2 separate regions of the Homo sapiens genome follow, and region 2 is linked to region 1. A link means that fine-mapping ties the variant in region 1 to the expression of a gene that starts in the linked region. Tissue or cell type: whole blood. Region 1 holds a variant in brackets; the other region holds the start of a gene. All regions are shown on one strand. Distances are between the middles of the regions.

Region 1 (10,395 bases):
GGTGGGTGCCTGTAGTCCCAGCTACATGGGAAGCTGAGGCAGGAGAATGGTGTGAACCCAGGAGGTGGAGCTTGCAGTGAGATGAGATCGTGCCACTGCACTCCAGCCTGGGCAACAGAGCGAGACTCCCTCTCGAGAGAAAAAACAAAAACAAAAACAAAAACTTCCACAAAGGCTCATGCCCACAGGGCTTCACTGCTGTATTTAACTAAACATTTAGAGAAAAATTAATACCAGTTTTTCATAAACTCTTTCAAAAAATAGAAGAAGAGGCAACATTTCCCAACTCTTTTTATGAGGCCAGTATTACCCTGATGCCAAAGCCAGACATAAGAAAGGAAACTACAGATCAGTATTTCTTATTAATATAGAGGCAAAAATCTTCAAATACCAGCAGACAGAATCCAGCACCACATCAAAAGGACAGTACACCATGATCAAGTGCGAATGATCCCAGGAATGCAAGGCTGGTTCAATATCTGAAAATACATTAACTTAATACACCATAATTTTAGAATAAATGGAAAAAAGCAATTAATCATCTCAATAAATGCAGAAAAAAACTTTGACAAAATTCAACATTCTTTCGTAAGAAAAAAACCATGCAACAAACTACAAGTAAAAGACAACTTCCTCTACCTGATAAAGAGCATCTGTGAAAAACCCACAGCTGACATCATACTTAATGGTGAAAGTTCCTGACAGATCAAAATAAGACAAGGAAGTCCGCTCTTACCACTTTTATTCTGTATTGTACTGGAGATTCTAGCCAGGAAAATTAAGCAAGAAAGTGAAATAAAAGGCATCTAGATTGGAAAGAAAGAAGTGAAACTATCTATAGATTACATGATCTTGTATATAGAAAATATACAAGATCCAAGGCCGGGCGTGGTGGCTTATGCCTGTAATGCCAGCATTTGGGAGGCCAAAGTGGGCAGATCATTTGAGATCAGCAGTTTGAGACCAGCCTGGCAAACATGGTGAAACTCCGTCTCTACTAAAAATACAAAAAATTAGCTGGGCATGGTGGTGCACACCTGTAATCCCAGCTACTCAGAGTCTGAGGCAGGAGAATCCCTTGAAGCTGGTAGGCAGAGTTTGCAGTGAGCTGAGATCGTGCCACTGCACTCCAGCCTGGGTGACAGAGTCAGACTCTGTCTCAAACAAAACAAAACAAAAACAAAAAAAGAAAATATATAAGATCCTGTAAATCCTAAGGAACCCACTAAAAAATCAGAACTTTAATCGCCAGGGAAATGCAAATCAAAACCTCTGAAGAAAAAACACAAACTGTTTTTTTTCTTGGCTCTCACACCACAGTAACAATCACTACAGAAGTCTTCTGTGACCGGGCTGGGTGCGGTGGCTCACATCTGTAATCCCAGCACTTTGGGAGGCCAAGGTGGGTGGATCACGAGGTCAGGAGTTCAAGAACAGCCTGACCAACGTGGTGAAAACCTATCTCTACTAAAAACACAAAAAGAATAGCCAGGTGTGGTGGCAGGCACCTGTAATCCCAGCTACTGGGGAGGCTGAGGCAGGAGAAATGCTTGAACCAGGGAAGCAGAGGTTGCAGTGAGCAGAGATCACACCACTGAACTCCAGCCTGGGCAACAGAGTGAGACTTGGTCTCAAAAAAAAAAGAAAAGAAAAGGAAAAGAAAAAAGAAAAAAAAAAGAAGTCTTCTGTGACCAAATGTTGGGGGGAACTCCTGCCAACACCAAGCAAACAACCAATTCTCCAATGGACAATTCTGAATTGAGTGTCCTCCAATTCAATTCCAACACTATCTACCTGAAGATAGCATCAGATCCCACAAGTTGAGGGTTCAATCCCACAAGACTGCACCCCTACACACACCAGAACTTCTGACCGACTGGCTTCAAATTGGGGTTTCCATGATTCCCTCTTTTTTTTTTTTTTTTTTTTTTTTTTTTGAGACAGAGTCTCCTCTGCCACCCATGCTGGAGTGCAGTGGCAGAGATCTCAGCTCACTGCAAGCTCCGCCTCCCAGGTTCATGCCGTTCTCCTGCCTCAGCCTCCTGAGTAGCTGGGACTACAGGTGCATGCCACAACGCCCAGCTAATTTTTTGTATTTTTAGTAGAGATGGGGTTTCACTGTGTTAGCCAGAGATGGTTTCGATCTCCTGACCTCGTGATCCGTCCGCCTCGGCCTTCCAAAGTGCTGGGGTTACAGGCATGAGCCACCATGTCTGGCACAGCTCTCTCTTTAGTGAGAGTGGGGACTTCTGAGAGGAAAAGACCAGCAGGTGGGGGATGTGCCATATTTTATAGTCAGATTTGAGGATGTGGTGCCTGATTTACATAGGACTCACAGATTGGTTTGATCAAGAGTGATATTACATAGCATGCAGGGAAGGCTGGCTGCCTCACCCTAATCATATTATGCAAATGAACTTTCCCCTTGGCCTTCGCCATCTTGTCTGCTCTTTACTGTACACGTGGCTGACAAAGAGAAGGGAAGATGGAGCCACCATCTTGAACATGATTGGCACAACTGCCAACATCTATGTCTGCAGCTCGATTTTACAGGCTACTCTTCGTTAGAAAGGAAAATAATTTGGGGCTGCTTTTCATTAAAAGGAGAACCTTACCAAAGACTTCTGTACCCTTACTATCTGCCTAAGTAATTTCTTCTTAACTCCTGTATGACCTCCACATGGTCAGCTATCCGGAAGCTCCCTAAGCCCTGTCCTTTTGGCCTTTTATGGAGACTTAATTGGATAGGCATGACTCAAGCATGGACAAATGTGTAGAAAGGTGATTGGTCAAAAAGGGCACGATCTAATACTAATACCCTGAATGGGGAACCCCAGCAAGGCCCTTGTGTTCAGCAACTCCTTGGCCTCTCTGTGCAGCTTTCCTTCCTCCAGGGTATGGGCAGGAGTCCTACCGAAATGAAGGTGTCATCAACTACACTCAGACAAGGTATGTCAGAGAGTTTCTTTATGGCCAATTTCAATACAGAAAGGTAGGGGAAGATTCCTGCCTTGGTGAGAAAAAGAAGCAGGTGAAAGGAGAGCAGGAGAAGGTCAAACAGAGAGAGAGAGTTTTTTTTTTTTTTTTTGAGACGGATTCTTGCTCTGTTGCTCAGGCTAGAGTGCAGTGATCTCCGCTCACACTAACCTCCGCCTCCCAGGTTCAAGCGATTCTCCTGCTTCAGCCTCCTAACTGGGACTACAGGCGCCCGCCACCACACCTGGCTAATTTTTGTATTTGTAGTAAAGACGGGGTTTCACCATGTTGGCCAGGCTGGTCTTGAACTCCCGACCTCGTGATTCACCCACCTTGGCCTCCCAAAGAGCTGGGATTACAGGCATGAGCCACCACACCCAGCCAAGAGATTCTTTTTTCAATGAGGCCTGCTTCAGAGGATTGCAGCACTCCAGCATTCTAGCAAGAGCTATGGGAGCTGTGAACCAGGAACTGTGGACAAAATCTAGATGTATATATATATATATCACCAAATCACAATGAGGTGCTGCCTCATACCTGTTACGATGGCCACTATAGAAAACAAAAACAAAAAACACCAAAACCAGAAAATACGTGTGGCAAGAATGAGAGCGAATTGGAAACCCCGTGCACTGTTGGTGGGAATGTAAAATGGTACAGCTAATGTGGAAAACTGTGTGAAAGTTCCTCAAAATATTAAAAATAGAACTACCATATGATCCAGCAGTCCCACTTTTGGGTATTTATTTATTTATTTATTTATTTATTTATTTATTTATTTTTGAGACGGAGCTTCGCTCTTGTCACCCAGAATGGAGTACAATGGTGCGATCTTGGCTCACAGGAACCTCCGCCTCCTGGGTTCATGCGATTCTTGTGCCTTGGTCTCTCAAGCAGCTGGGACTACAGGGGTGTGCTATCACGTCCAGCTAATTTGTGTGTGTGTGTGTGTGTGTGTGTGTGTCTGTGTATGTTTTTTGAGACAGAGTCTCACTCTGTCGCCCAGGCTGGAGTGCAGTGGTGTGATCTTGGCTCATTACAACCTCCATCTTCCGGGTTCAAGTGATTCTCCTGCCTCAGCCTCCTGAGTAGCTGGGATTACAGGCATCTGCCACCATGCAGACTAATTTTTATATTTTTAGTAGAGACGGGGTTTCACCATGTTGGCCAAGCTGGTCTCAAACTCCTGACCTCAGGTCATCCACCCACCTCAGCCTCCCAAAGTGCTGGGATTACAGGCATGAGCCATGTGCCCGGCCTAATTTTTGTGTTTTCAGTAGAGACAGGGTTTCACCATGTCAGCCAGGCTGGTCTTGAACTCCTGACCTCAAGTGATCCACACACCTCAGCCTCCCAAAGTGCTGGGATTACAGGCATGAGCCACGTGCCCGGCCTAATTTTTGTGTTTTCAGTAGAGACAGGGTTTCACCATGTCAGCCAGGCTGGTCTTGAACTCCTGACCTCAAGTGATCCACCCACCTCGGCCTCCCAAAGTGCTGGAATTACAGGTGTGAGCCACTGCGCCTGGCCACTTCTGGGTATTTATCCAAAAGAATTGAAATCAGAATCTCAAAGAGATATCTGCATTCCCATGTTCATTTCAGTATTATTTACAATAATCAAGAGGTGTACACAACCTAAATGTCCACTAACAGATGAATGGATAAAGAAAATGTGAGGCCAAGGTGGGCGGATCACGAGGTCAGGAGATTGAGACCATCCTGGCTAACACGGTGAAACCCCATCTCTACTAAAAATACAAAAAATTAGCCAGGTGTGGTGGCGGGCGCCTGTAGTCCCAGCTACTCAGGAGGCTGAGGCAGGAGAATGGCGTGAACCCGGGAGGTGGAGCTTGCAGTGAGCTGAGATTGCGCCACTGCGCTCCAGCCTGGGTGATGGAGCAAGATTCCATCTCAAAAAAAAA[G/A]AAAGAAAGAAAGAAAGAAAATGTGGCACAGACATACAATGGAATATTATTCAGCTGTAAAAAGGAGGAAATCTTGTCATATGCTACAACACAGATGAACCCTGAAGACTGATACAGTTTCGATGTGTGTCTCTGCCCAAATCTCTTGTAGAAATGCAATCCCCAATGTTGGAGGTGGGGCCTGTGGGGAAGTGTTTGGATCACGGGGGCAGATCCCTCATAAATGGCTTGCGCCATCTCCTTAGCAATAAGTGAGCCCTTACTCTGAGTTCACACGAGATCTGACTCTTTAAAAGTTAGTGGCACCCCTCCTCACCCTCTCGCTGTCTTGCTCCTGTTTTCGCCATGACATGCCTGCTCCCCATTCGCCTTCTGCCATGATTTTAAGTTTCCTGGGGCCTCCCCAGAAGCCAAGCAGATGCCAGCACCATGCTTCCTGTACAGCCTGCAGAACCATGAGCCAATTAAACCTCTTTTCACCGTAAATTACCCAGTCTCCGGCATTTCTTTATAGCAAAGCAAGAATGGCTTAAGACAAAGACATTATACTAAGTGAAATAAACCAGTTATAGAAGGACAAAAACTGCATGATTCCACTCATACGAGGTATCTAAAGTAGTCAAACTCACCAAAACAAAAATTAGAAAGGTGATGTTCAGCAGCTGAGGGGAGGGGGAGAGGAGGAGTTGCTGTTTATTGGGTATCGAGTTTCAGTCATGCAAAATGAAAAATTTTAGAATCTGCTGCACTACGTTGTGATCGTAGTTTAAAGTACTGTACACTTAAAACTTGCTCGGGTCCAGGTGTGGTAGCTCATGCCTGTAATCCCAGCACGTTAGGAGGCCGAGGCGGGCGGATCACGAGGTCAGGAGATCGAGACCATCCTGGCCAACATGGCAAAACCCCGTCTCTACTAAAAAATAAATAAATAAAAATTAGCTGGGGATGGTTGCGTGGCATGGAGGCTGAGGCAGGAGAATTGCCGGAACCCGGGAGGCAGAGGCCACAGTGAGCCAAGATCGTGCCACTGCCCCCTAGCCTGGGCGACAGAGTAAGACTCCATCAAAAGCAAACAAACAAACAAAAATCAACAACAAAAACTTGCTAGGAGGGTACATCTCATGTTATATGTTTTATCACAATAAGAAAATAAAACTGGCCAGGCACAGTGGCTCACACCTGTAATCCCAGCACTTTGGGAGGCTGAGATGGAAGGATCTCTTGAGCCCAGGAGTACGAGACCATCCTGGGCAACACCGTGAAACCCCCGTCTCGACAAAAATAAACAAAATCAGCTGGGCATGGTGGTGCATGCATGTGGTCTCAGCTATTTGGGAGGCTGAAGAGAGAGAATTACTTGAGCCTGGGAGGTTGAGGCTGCAGTAAGCCAAGATCGCACCACTGTACTCCTGCCTGGGCAATAGAGATAGACACTGTCTAAAAAAAAAAAAAAAAAAAGGCCAAGGTCAGGTGAGGTGGCTCATGCCTGTAATCCTAGCACTTTGAGAGGCCAAGGTGGGTGGGTCACCTGAGGTCAGGAGATGGAGGCCAGCTTGGCCAACATGGTGAAACTCCATCTCTACTAAAAAAATACAAAAATGAGCTAGGCGTGGTGGCACGCACCTATAATCCCAGCTACTGAGGAGGCTGAGGCAGGAGAATTGCTTGAACATGGGGTGCGGAGGTTGCAGTGAGCCGACATCATGCCACTTCACTCCAGCCTGTGTGACAGAGCGAGACTCCATCTGAAAAACAAAAAACAAAAAACAAACTAATTAATGAAAACAGTAATGTTGCAAGATATAGGTCAATATGCAAAAAAAAAATCAATTATATTTCCATATAATTGCAATGGACAGGTCAGGCACGTTTGCTCACAGCTGTAATCCCAGCACTTTGGGAGGCCAAGGCGGGCAGATCACTTGAGGTCAGGAGTTCGAGACCAGCCTGGCCAACATGATGAAATCCCATCTCTACTAATAATACAAAAACAAACAAACAAAAAAATTAGCCAGGCATGGTGGTCGGCACCTGCAATCCCAACTACTAGAGAGGCTGAGGCAGGAGAATAGCTTGAATCTGAGAGGTGGAGGTTGTGGTGAGCCGAGAATGCACCATTGCACTCCAGCCTGGGCGACAAGAGTGACATTTCATCTCAAAAAAAAAAAAAAAAAAAAAAGCCGGGTGTGGTGGCTCATGCCTGTAATCCCAGAACTTTGGGAGGCTGAGGTGGGTGGATCACGAGGTCAGGAGATAGAGACCATCCTGGCCAACATGGTGAAACCCCGTCTCTACTAAAAATACAAAAAAATTAGCTGGGTGTGGTGGCGCATGCCTGTAATCCCAGCTACTCAGGAGGCTGAGGCAGGAGAATCGCTTGAACCAGGGAGTTGGAGGTTGCAATGAGCTGAGATCGTGCCACTGCACTCCAGCCTGGTGACAGAGCGAGACCCCGTCTCAAAAAAAAAAAAAAAAATGCAATGAACAATTTCTGAAAACGAAATTAAGAAAACAATTCCATTTACAATAGCACCCCCAAAATAAAATACTTAAGAATAAACTTAACAAAAGGAGTACAAAATGTATGCTCTGAAACCTTGAAATAATTGTTGAAACAAATCAAAGAAGATTTGATTTCTAAGTAAATGGAAAGATACCCCACATTCATGGATCAGAAGATTTAATATTGTTAAATTAATCTACCCAATCCCTATTGGAATTCCAGTGACTTCCTTGTAGAAATTGACAAATGGGTCCTAAAATTCATATGGAAACTCAGGGGACTCAGAATAGCCAAAACAATCTTGAAAAAGAAACAAGTTGAAGGCTCACACTTCCCAATTTCAAAACTTACTACAAAGCTACAGTAATCAAGACACTGTGATACTGTCATAGGGCTAGACCCATAGATCAATGATCTATAGAGTCCATGGCTGGATGTGGTGGCTCACAGCTATAATCCCAGCACTTTGGGAGGCTGAGGTGGGTGGATCACTTGAGGTCAGGAGTTCGAGACCAGCCTGGCCAACATGGTGAAACCCCATCTCTACTAAAAATACAAAAATTAGCCAGGTGTGGAGGTGGGCACCTGTAGTCCCAGCTACATGGGAGGCTGAGGCAGGAGAATCACTTGAACCCTGAGTGACAGACTCTGCCTCAAAAAAAAAAAAATCTAGAGTCCAGAAATAAACCTATATGTCTGTGGTCAATTTATTTTAAATAAGGGTGCCAAGACAATTCAATGAGGGAAAGAATAGTCTTTAAATAAACAGTGCTATGTAACAGTGAACATGTACAAAACATACACATACAAAATAATGAACTTGACTGGGCATGGTTGCTCATGCCTGTAATCCCAGCACTTTGGGAGCCCGAGGTGGGTGGATCACTTGACCCCAGGAGTTTGAGACTAGCCTGAACAACATAGTGAAACTCCTGTCCCACAAAAAATACAAAAAGATAAGCAAGGCATGGTGGTGTGTGCCTGTAGTCCCAACTACTTAGGAGACTGAGGTGGGAGGATCACCTGAGCCCAAGAGTTCAAGGCTGCAGTGAGTTGTGATCACACCACTGCACTCCAGCCTGGGCAGCAGAGTAAGATCCTGTTTCAAAAAATAATAAATAAATAAGGAATGTGGAGCCCCTGCCTCATACCATATACAAAAATTAACTCAAAATAGGGTTGTTGTTGTTTTAAAACCAAATGTAAAAGCTAAAACTATAAAACTCTTAGAAGAAAACATAGGGACAAGTCTTTGTAGCTTCAAATTTGGCAGTGTCTTTTTTTTTTTTTTTTGAGACGGAGTCTTGCTCTGTTGCCCAGGCTGGAGTGCAGCAGCACAATCTCGGTTCACTGCAAGCTCGGCCTCCCAGGTTCACACCATTCTCCTGCCTCAGCCTCCCGAGTAGCTGGGACTACAGGCGCCCACCACCACACCCGGCTAATTTTTTGTGTATTTAGTAGAAACGGGGTTTCACCATGTTAGCCAGGATGTTCTCCATCTCCTGACGTTGTGATCCGGGTGCCTCGGCCTCCCAAAGTGCTGGGATTACAGGCATGAGCCACCGCACCCATCCCGGCAGTGTCTTCTTAGACATGTCAACAAAAAGGAAAGCAACAACAATGAAAACAGATACATTGGGCTTCATCAAAATGTGAAACTTATAACATACACTGGGGCCTGTCGGGGGGTCGGGGGAGCAAGAGCATTAGGATAAAGCTAATGTATTCAGGGCTTAATACATAAGTGATGGGTTGATAGGTGCAGCAAAGCACCATGGCACACGTTTACCTATGTAACAAACCTGTACATCCTGCACGTGTATCCCAGGATTTAAAATAAAATATAGAAAATACTCAACAATCATAATAAGTGTAAAAGAATTTTGGTCGGGCGCAGTGGCTCACGCCTGTAATCCCAGCACTTTGGGAGGCCAAGGCAGGTGGATCACGAGGTCAGGAGATCCAGACCATCCTGACTAACACGGCAAAACCCTGTCTCTACTAAAAATACAAAAATAAAATAAAATAAAATAAAAATAAATAAAAATAAAAATTAGCGGGGTGTGGTGGCTGGTGCCTGTAGTCCCAGCTACTCAGGAGGCTGAGGCAGGAGAATGGTGTGAACCCAGGAGGCGGAGCTTGCAGTGAGCCGAGATCGTGCCACTGCATTCCAGACTGGGGGACAGAGTGAGACTCTGTCTCAAAAAAAAAAAAAAAAAAAAGAATTTGAAACAAAAACGTGAAACTTCTGTGATTCAAAGAACACCGTCAAGAAAGTGAAAAAACGCCTGCCTGCCCGCCTTTCTTTCTCTCTCTCTCTCTCTTTCTTTCTTTCAACAGTCTCCCTCTGTTGCCGAGGCTGGACTATACTGCCGTGATCTCGGCTCGCTGCAACCTCCCTGCCTCAGGCTCCTGTGATTCTCCTGCCTCGGCCTGCCGAGTGCCTGGGATTGCAGGCATGCGCCGCCACGCCTGACTGGTTTTTGTATTTTTGGTGGAGACGGGGTTTCGCCGTGTTGGCCGGGCTGGTCTCCAGCTCCTGACCTTGAGTGATCTGCCCGTCTCAGCCTCCTGAGGTGCTGGGATTGCAGACGGAGTCTCGCTCACTCAATGCTCAATGTTGCCCAGGCTGGAGTGCAGTGGCGTGATCTCGGCTCGCTAAAACCTCCACCTCCCAGCCGCCTGCCTTGGCCTCCTAAAGTGCTAAGATTACAGCCTCTGCCCGGCCGCCACCCCGTCTGGGAAGTGAGGAGCGCTTCTGCCCGGCCGCCACCCCGTCTGTGCTGGGTGTGGTGGTGGGCGCCTGTAGTCCCAGCTTTTTGGAAGGCTGAGGCAGGAGAATCGCTTGAACCCAGGAGGCGGAGGTTGCTGTGAGCTGAGATTACACCACTGCACTCCAGCCTGGGCGACAGAGCAAGACTCCATCTTAAAAAAAAAAAAAGGCCGGGCACAGTGGCTCACGCCTCTAATCCCAGCACTTTGGGAGGACAAG
Region 2 (9,379 bases), 32 kb after region 1:
GTTCAAGCAATTCTCCTGCCTCAGCCTCCAGAGTAGTTGGGATTACAAGCATGCACCACCATGCCCGGGTAATTTTTTTTTTTTTTTTTTTTTGAGATGGAGTCTCGCTCTGTCACCCAGGCTGGAGTGTAGTGCCACGATCTCGGCTCACTGCAACCTCCGCCTCCTGGGTTCACACCATTCTCCTGCCTCAGCCTCCCAAGTAGCTGGGACTACAGGCGCCTGCCACCATGCCTGGCTAATTTTTTGTATTTTTAGTAGAGAGGGGGTTTCACCATGTTAGCCAGGATGGTCTCCATCTCCTGACCTCGTGATCTGCCCGCCTTGGCCTCCCAAAGTGCTGGGATTACAGGCGTGAGGCACTGCGCCCGGCCAGAGCCTCATAACTTTGTGAGGTGGGCAGTTCAAATCTTATTAATTCCCCATTTACCAATGACAAAATGAGGTTCAGAGAGATTAGCCCTCTTGGCCAAGATCGCACAGCCAGTCAGTGGCAGAGGTGGGACTTGAACCCGTCCCTTGCTGTTCCTTGAACTTCTCCACACGACAGGGCTGTCCCTCAGCCTACAGGTCACCCCTCTAGCCTTGCCTGTTGGCTCTTCCTAATCCTTTCAGGCCCAGCCCAGATACTTTTTAAACAAGAATGATGAGAGCTAACTTTTTTTAAAATGAGACGGTCTTGCTCTTTCACCCAGAGAAGACTGGGTGATAACAGTGGCTCAATCTTGGCTCACTGCAGCCTCTGCCTCCAGGGTTCAAGCTATTCTCATGCCTTAGCCTCCTCAGTAGCTGGGATTACAGGGGTGCATCACTACACCACGCTAATTTTTGTATTTTTAGTAGAGATGCGGTTTTACCATGTTGGCCAGGCTGGTCTCGAACTCCTGACCTCAGGTGATCCGCCAGCCTTGGCCTCCCAAAGTGCTGGGATTACAGGCGTGAGTCACTACGCATGGCTGAGAGCTAACGTTTATTAAGCACCCGCCACTTTCTAGATGAGGTCCTTACTGACTTCCTTGGGTTATTTTAGGTAATCATCCCCATACCTCTTACGTGGCAGGTATGACTGTTACAGAGGGAGAAACCGAGGCTGAGAAAGGCTAAGTAGCGGCCACACCTCACTCAGCAGGTGACAGGCTGCGGTCGCACTCATGACATAGTCTGACTCTAGAGCAGGCCTTTCCTGCCCGCTGTTGCTGCCTCCAGAAGCCTCTCTGAATCCAAGGGTGGGAACTATTCCTCCTTGCCCTCGAGCCTTCGCCAAAGCCAGGGCTTGGAGCGGCCGTGGGCTCCTCCTCCTTCCCCCAGGCTGGGCTCTTCAGGGGCGGAAACCTGCCTGGCTTGCCTGCCTTGCTCGACCCTGTAGCCCCTGGCACGAAGTAGGTGCCCGTGATGCCGGATTATTTCAGCAGGAGGGCAGGGGTGTTCCCGATGAAGCCAGGAGATCCAGGGAGGAGAAGCGACTCCCGGGGCCACCCATGCTTAGATCTCAGAGCCAGGCAAGAGCCAGGTCCCGGGGGTCCAGGAGCGCGCTCGGGGCTCCTCCTCGCCCGCGCCCCCCGCGCCCCTCGCGCCCCCCGCGCCCCCCGCGCCCCCTGCGCTCGCGTCTGCGGGGCCGGGAGGAAGGGGCGGCGCAGCCGGGCCGGGGCGGGCACCGAGGCCTGGCGGGCGGGCCTGGGGCGCTTTCGTGCCTGCCAGGGAAAGGCTGGCGAGGAGGCTGGGGGCGGACGCAGGGAGGAAAGAAGCAATGGGGTGCTCTTGCGTTTTGACATTTTAAAAAGAAGTTTAGATTCGCTTCCCGGAGCCGGGATGGCAGCCTGCGCTATGGTTGGGGACCAACGTGGTGCACGGGCAGGGGCCGGGGAGAGAGGCGGCCGCAGCGGGAGCCCGGGAGCGCAGGGCGGGCCTGGAAGAGCTCCGCCCCAAGGGGCGCGGCCACCCCGGAGGCGGGCGCACGGCTGCTTCTCATTCATTGTCTTGACAAGAGCATCTTCAGCGGGCGAGTCCCCGGCTCCTCCAGCTCCTTCCTCCTCTTCCTCCTCCTCCTCCACCTCCGGCTTTTGGGGGATCACTGTCCTCTCTCGGCAGCAGGTGAGGCTGGGCCTGGGAGGCGCGGGTGGGCCGGGGCGAGGGCCACCTGTGGGGCGGCGCGCGCGTGGGAGCCGCGGGCTGCGGGGGCGCGCGGCTGTCACCGCGACCCAGCCAGCGCCGGGGCCAGGTAGCGGGCGCAGCAGCCCGTGGGGGGACGCTGCTTGGAGTGGGGGCCGCCGGGGCCCCAGAGCGCTCTGCGGAGGCGAGGGCTAGGGACCACCGCGGCCAAGATGGAGGTGGGTGGCCGGGGGTCAGCACAGTGTCGAGGGCCCGACTCCCCACGGAATTGAGTCTCGGGGAGGGTGGGGACGAGGGCAGGGTGGGGTGAGCGGGGCAGCTGCCCTGGGCTTGGAGACAGGAAGGGGTTGAGAGCAAAACAAGAAAAGACCAAGTTCCCCTTTCCGTGGTTTCCGGGCCTGGTACCTGTGGTGGGGGAGGAGGCAGGGTGGGGCGATGGCTTCCTGTCCCCCACCTCTGGTCCGGGGCTCCCCTCTCTCCAGATACAGGCTGCTCCTCAAGACTGGGGCTCTTCACATACGCTCCTCACCGCTCTTTGGGCAGGCCGACCTAGCAGCCTCTTCGGGAGTCCTGGGGTGGCCGGGGGTGCTGGAGCCCCCAGTGAGTAGGCGAGGCTGAGGCTAGGGGCAGAGGCTCTGGGCATGGCACCCTCCAAGCGGCAGCACAGGCCCCTTCCCTGAGCAGGAAGGTGATGCGGTGGCACAAGGTCGCCCCTGGAGTTCCTTGCTCCCCACCCAGACACTGGGGGAAACCATCCTACCTGGACCTCAGAGCAGTCGGAGTGGCCTCTCCCTTCCTGTGTGCAGTTTACATGGGGGTGGAGATGGCTCTTAAGGGCACCTGCTTTTCTGAGCGGAGGCGAGAGGCAGAGGTATGGGGAGGAGGAGATACCTGGACCTGAGCCAGAGACCTGCTGGGGAAGCTATCCTGCCGCCTCACTCCCCTCAGGCAGCCCCCACGCCACTTCCTCCTGTGTCCAGCCCCATGCCAGCAGGCGAGGGAGGCCAGCTCCTGTCCCTGCCTTTAGGAAGCGCTGTGTGGGTGTGAGGGAGGTGGGCTCTGGACACGGTAACTAAGAGAGAACCCACCCTCGGAGCCATCTGGGCTGATGACGCCTGAGTCTGAACCATTAGGAAGGACGGGCTCTGCATCCATCAGCCAGTCAGTCAACAAACATGCAGTGGGGCAACACCACGCCAGGCTCTGTTGCAGAGGCTGAGGGTACAGATTGAGAGGGTGGCTCAGAGTGGCCTGGGGCCAGGGAGAAGGGGGCTTGCAGGTTAGAGGGAAGGAGAGGCTGGGGAAGGCAAGCAGGCATCAGCCACAGAGGGAAGAATAGGGAGCCCCTGGAGATGATGCTGGGACCTTAAAAGCCAGACTGAGGGGTGTCCTGGGGGAGGTGGGGACCACTGGAAGATCAGAGTTGACCTGAAGGGAGAAATGCTCTTATGCTGTGTGCCCCCAGAATGAGCCGGCAGGTGGTCCGCTCCAGCAAGTTCCGCCACGTGTTTGGACAGCCGGCCAAGGCCGACCAGTGCTATGAAGATGTGCGCGTCTCACAGACCACCTGGGACAGTGGCTTCTGTGCTGTCAACCCTAAGTTTGTGGCCCTGATCTGTGAGGCCAGCGGGGGAGGGGCCTTCCTGGTGCTGCCCCTGGGCAAGGTGAGCCCCTGGGGCCCTGGGGGGAGCAGCTCCTCCACCGGACCCATGGCTCTGTGCAGGTCCTGATTAGGTGACGGTCACCAGGCCTTCCAGGGCCTGTGTTGCCATCTGGAAAACTGAGCTGGGCCCCATGAGCCTTACACTTCCTCCAGCTCCTCTGTGCTGTGGCTGTGTGGAAACTGACGCTCAGAAGGAGCCAACACAAGATGGGTCACACCAGTGACCAGGACTACAGACAGTCCTGCAGACCCATGATCAGCCCTCCTGAGCCTCAGCCTGGGGCTTTCTCCCCATGGAAACACAGAGGGGGTTGGGATGGGGTCTGGGGGCCCTGGCAGCGTTCTCAGGGTTGGGAGGGACTCTGGCTCTGGGCCTGTCTGAGGACCTAGCAACTCTGTCCCCCAGCTCGCAGGCAGGGATGATGCAAGAGGTGCTCTCCCCCACCCGCAGCCCTGCCCTCCCCTGGAGCCTGCTGCCCCCTCCGCTGGCTGGCTGCTGCCCCGCACCCCCAGCACACTCCTGTGCTCTTTGGGGGGTAAGACAGGAAGGGGAGATGGGCCCCAAGTTGTTACCTTAAAAGGGCTGATGGAAGCAAAGAGAAGAGGAAGTGGTTGTCGGGGTGAGAGCTGGGCCCGCGCCCCACATGGCTGTCACACAGGAAGCCCTGCTGAAGCAGCTGTCCCCGGAAGAAGCCATTTCCAAACCTCTGCTCCTGCCTGGGGCCAGTTGGGACAGGCTCCCTGGCCCCTCTCCTTTTGGGAGGACCCACCCCTGCAGCCCCACCACTCACACTCGCTCTCTGGGGAGCTGCCTCCACCCCCCCAGCCCCCATACACCTGTCCTGGCTCCAGGGCCAGTTGTGCCCATGGAAGCCTCACTCGGGGAAGCTGGGGTGGGGGTGCCAACCCTAAGGGCAGAGACAGACTGAGACAGAGACCGGCGGGAACTCTGCCAGGGTCTTGCACGGCCCCCAACCTCTGCCATGCGTGGCCAGCCCTCCTGGGGTTTGCCCAGGCCATTTTGGGACTGGAACAAGAGAAGAACAACCCGCCCCCGTCCCCACCCCAGGCCCTGGTCCAGCTCCCAGGGACACCACAGCTTTCCTCTCTGGGCCTCTCTGAAGGAGGTGTGGGGAGGTTGGATTGGGTTTGGGAGGCAAAAGCACCTCCAAGGCCCTGCTGTGCCTTTAGACTGGACGTGTGGACAAGAATGCGCCCACGGTCTGTGGCCACACAGCCCCTGTGCTAGACATCGCCTGGTGCCCGCACAATGACAACGTCATTGCCAGTGGCTCCGAGGACTGCACAGTCATGGTGAGTGGTGGTGGGGACCCAGGGGCTGGGAGAGGGGCTCTAGGATGGGATCTGACATTTGGAGTCCTGAAGACTCACTGGCCCCTCCTCTGCAGGTGTGGGAGATCCCAGATGGGGGCCTGATGCTGCCCCTGCGGGAGCCCGTCGTCACCCTGGAGGGCCACACCAAGCGTGTGGGCATTGTGGCCTGGCACACCACAGCCCAGAACGTGCTGCTCAGTGCAGGTGCTGCGGGAGGAGGGGCTTGGGGGTGGCTCGTGGCCTGCAGTGGATGAGGGCAGGAGGCTCATGGCTTCTGACACTGTGGGGAACGTGCAGGTTGTGACAACGTGATCATGGTGTGGGACGTGGGCACTGGGGCGGCCATGCTGACACTGGGCCCAGAGGTGCACCCAGACACGATCTACAGTGTGGACTGGAGCCGAGATGGAGGCCTCATTTGTACCTCCTGCCGTGACAAGCGCGTGCGCATCATCGAGCCCCGCAAAGGCACTGTCGTAGCTGTGAGTCGCCATCTACCCTGACCTTTGACCCTACAGCCTTTATCCTTCTTATCCACCATCAGCCAGGCCCTTGGATGCTGCCCTCCCTCGCCTCCACCTGGGACTGGCCCCGTAGGGTATGTACGGGTGCCTGACCTACCACCTCCCTTTCCTTGCAGGAGAAGGACCGTCCCCACGAGGGGACCCGGCCCGTGCGTGCAGTGTTCGTGTCGGAGGGGAAGATCCTGACCACGGGCTTCAGCCGCATGAGTGAGCGGCAGGTGGCGCTGTGGGACACAGTGAGTGCTGGGGCAGGAAGCCGAGGGCCCCCAGGCTGGGAACCAAGACTGGAGGTTTCGTCCCTGCTCTGCCACTCACCTGGCAGGATGGCCATGGGCCTCAGTTTACCCAGGCGTGAGATGGTTGTTCCCACTGGTTGGTCGGGAGGGCCCTCACAGGTCACTGCCCAGGGAAGACCACCATCCCAGGGCCTGGGATGTTACCTCTCACCTGTGTCTACAGAAGCACCTGGAGGAGCCGCTGTCCCTGCAGGAGCTGGACACCAGCAGCGGTGTCCTGCTGCCCTTCTTTGACCCTGACACCAACATCGTCTACCTCTGTGGCAAGGTGGCCTCGTCGGGCGGGGTGGGGGTGGGAGGTGGGCAGGATGGGCCTGGAGAGGGCCAGGGCAGTGGGCATCCGCTGGTATTGACCCTCCCTCCACACCTGCCACCTACAGGGTGACAGCTCAATCCGGTACTTTGAGATCACTTCCGAGGCCCCTTTCCTGCACTATCTCTCCATGTTCAGTTCCAAGGAGTCCCAGCGGGGCATGGGCTACATGCCCAAACGTGGCCTGGAGGTGAACAAGTGTGAGATCGCCAGGTGACTGACCCCCGGCCCTGACCGCAGCATGCTCCTTGGGCAGTGGGCAGTCCCAAGCCCACCCAACCAGACTGTGGGCCCCGCTCACCTTCCCCTTCCCACAGGTTCTACAAGCTGCACGAGCGGAGGTGTGAGCCCATTGCCATGACAGTGCCTCGAAAGGTGATGCTCCCCCGCCCCACCCTGGGCTCCAGGCTGGGCACTGACTTTGCGGTCTTGTGGGGGGTGTCCTGGCATAAGCGCTTTCCTCACTATCCCTGGCCTTGCCCACAGTCGGACCTGTTCCAGGAGGACCTGTACCCACCCACCGCAGGGCCCGACCCTGCCCTCACGGCTGAGGAGTGGCTGGGGGGTCGGGATGCTGGGCCCCTCCTCATCTCCCTCAAGGATGGCTACGTACCCCCAAAGAGCCGGGAGCTGAGGGTCAACCGGGGCCTGGACACCGGGCGCAGGAGGGCAGCACCAGAGGCCAGTGGCACTCCCAGCTCGGTGAGAGGGCTGGGAAGCCAGGGAATAAAACTGGGAGGGTGGGGTGGGGCTGGTGTTTGGGGCACCTCAAACTCACAACATTGGGAATCTTTGTGGGTCCGGGAATGGTAATCCTGAGGCCTCAGAACACAGGTTTCAGATTGATAGGCCTGCAGGTCTCCAGGCAGCAACCAGCTGAGCGACTAAAGGGCCCAAGGCCAGGGCTCTAGGGATGGGGCTCAGCAGAGGCTGGGGTAAGGGGAGCCAGGGAGGAGCTGGGCCTAATGCAGCACCGGGTCCCCAGGATGCCGTGTCTCGGCTGGAGGAGGAGATGCGGAAGCTCCAGGCCACGGTGCAGGAGCTCCAGAAGCGCTTGGACAGGCTGGAGGAGACAGTCCAGGCCAAGTAGAGCCCCGCAGGGCCTCCAGCAGGGTCAGCCATTCACACCCATCCACTCACCTCCCATTCCCAGCCACATGGCAGAGAAAAAAATCATAATAAAATGGCTTTATTTTCTGGTACCTCCCAGACTCTGATGACTGGTCCCCTAGACACGCAGTTTGCTGAACCAACCAGCCCTAGAGCTTCCCCTCCACCGCGCTGAGGGGACTGACCCATGGCAGGGGATGTGGGATGCCCCCTGACTTACTACATCACAGGAACAGGGCCTTCGTGGGTAGAAACCAGCCATGCTGATGTGGGCCAGGAGGCTGCTCTCCGTTTCCGAGCTCCTTCTCAGAGCTGACACAGCTGAACTATTTAAGGCCCTAGCTTAGAACCTCAATAATTCCCAAATTTACCAAAAATCTGCCTTTCCTAGTCAACCAAAACATCACGTTGCACGTGACTCTGCTGGCACTGTTGCTTGTGAGGAAATGAACCAACCATCACTTACAGGGTAGGCATCTTTTAAACTGCAGGTCCAAAGATAAAAATAACGAGGGAGGCTGGGCATGGGGACTCACGTCTATAATCCCAGCACTGTGGGAGGCTGAGGCGGCAGGATCATTTGAGCCCAGGAGTTTGAGACCTGCCTGAGCAACACGGCGAGATACCGTCTCTACGAAAAATAAAATAAAAAATTAGCCAGGCATGGTGGTGGGCACCTATAGTTCCAGCTACTCAGGAGGCTGAGGCAGGAGGATCCCTTGAGCCCAGGAGGTCGAGGCTGCAATGAGCCATTGCACCACTGCACTGCAGCCTGGGTGACAGAGCAAGACACTGTCTCTAAAAAATATAAATAGGCCGGGTGTGGCAGCTCACGCCTGTAATCCCAGCACTTTAGGAGGCCGAGGTGGGTGAATCACCTGAGGTCAGAAGTTCGAGACCAGCCTGGCCAACATGGTGAAACCCCATCTCTACTAAAAATACAAAAATTAGCTGGGCATGGTGGCAGGCGCCTGTAATCTCAGCTACTCAGGAGGCTGAGGCAAGAGAATTGCTTGAATCCGGGAGGCAAAGGTTGCAGTGAGCCGAGATCATGCCATTGTACTCCAGCCTGGGGGACAGGAGTGAGACTTCGTCTCAAAAAAAAAAAAAAATATATATATATATATATATATATATTTTTTAAATGTATAAATACATCATATATATTTTAATATATAAATATATTATATATATTATATATTTTAATATATAAATATATTATATATAATATATTTTAATATATAAATATTATATATATTATATTTTAATATATAAATATTATATATATTAATTATATATTTTAATATATAATATATATTATATTATATAATAATAAATTATATATTATATTATATAGTAATAAGTTATATATTATACTATATAATAATATAGTATAATATATAATATATATTATAATATATATTATATTATATTATATTATATTATATATTATAATATAAATTATATATATTTTATATATATGTTTTATATATTATATATTTTAATATATGAAACAGGGGAACTTCTTCTAAGGAAAAGACAGAATTAAGGCAACAGGCTGATCCTAGTTTACCAGAGAAGAAACTGAGGCCGGGAGCAGGAGCCCAGCTCACTGAAGGGCAGATCCCAAGTCAGAGTCCAAGTCTCCCCACTTTTTTATTTATTTAATTTTTTCTGAGATGGAGTTTCATTCTTGTTGCCCAAATTGAGTACAATGGCACAATCTCGGCTCACCGCAACCTCTGCCTTCTGGGTTCAAGCCATTCTCGTGCCTCAGACTCCCAAGTAGCTGGGATTACAGGCATGTGCCACCACGTCCGGCTAACTTTTGTGTTTTCAGTAGAGGTGGGGTCTCACCATGTTGGCCAGACTGGTCTCAAACTCCTGGCCTCAAGTCATCTGCCTGCCTCAGCCTCCCAAAGTGCTGGGATTACAGGCATGAGCCGCTGTGCCTGGCCTTATGTCTCCCCTTTTGAATTCAGAGCCTTCCCCCGTGTAGTGAGTGCTTCTGCCTCTCTAGCCCTTCCTG

What was found. PIP is the estimated chance that this variant, and not a neighbour inherited with it, causes the effect.
Region 2: CORO1A-AS1 starts here. The variant in region 1 is fine-mapped to the expression of CORO1A-AS1 in whole blood (TOPMed, PIP 0.95).

What each region holds. Positions count from the first base shown.
Region 1 is chr16:30,148,979-30,159,373 of GRCh38, forward strand. No RefSeq gene overlaps it. Among named protein-coding and RNA genes, the nearest start is that of CORO1A, 29 kb to the right of the region's middle. The variant G/A (reference allele first, on the strand shown) is at 4,901.
Region 2 is chr16:30,181,635-30,191,013 of GRCh38, forward strand. CORO1A-AS1 (CORO1A antisense RNA 1) reads right to left here and starts at 3,154. Exons shown (of 2, transcript NR_186359.1): 1 at 2,870-3,154; 2 at 1,759-2,137. CORO1A (coronin 1A) reads left to right here and starts at 1,968. Exons shown (of 11, transcript NM_007074.4): 1 at 1,968-2,091; 2 at 3,575-3,773; 3 at 4,964-5,086; 4 at 5,182-5,311; 5 at 5,405-5,589; 6 at 5,748-5,867; 7 at 6,091-6,195; 8 at 6,308-6,453; 9 at 6,558-6,615; 10 at 6,727-6,942; 11 at 7,226-7,442. The coding sequence starts at 3,576. The coding sequence ends at 7,330. RefSeq lists enhancers at 2,249-2,789, 2,790-3,331, 3,332-3,871, 3,872-4,413, 4,301-4,450 and 5 more and silencers at 1,551-1,660, 1,801-2,260, 2,291-2,400, 3,771-3,870.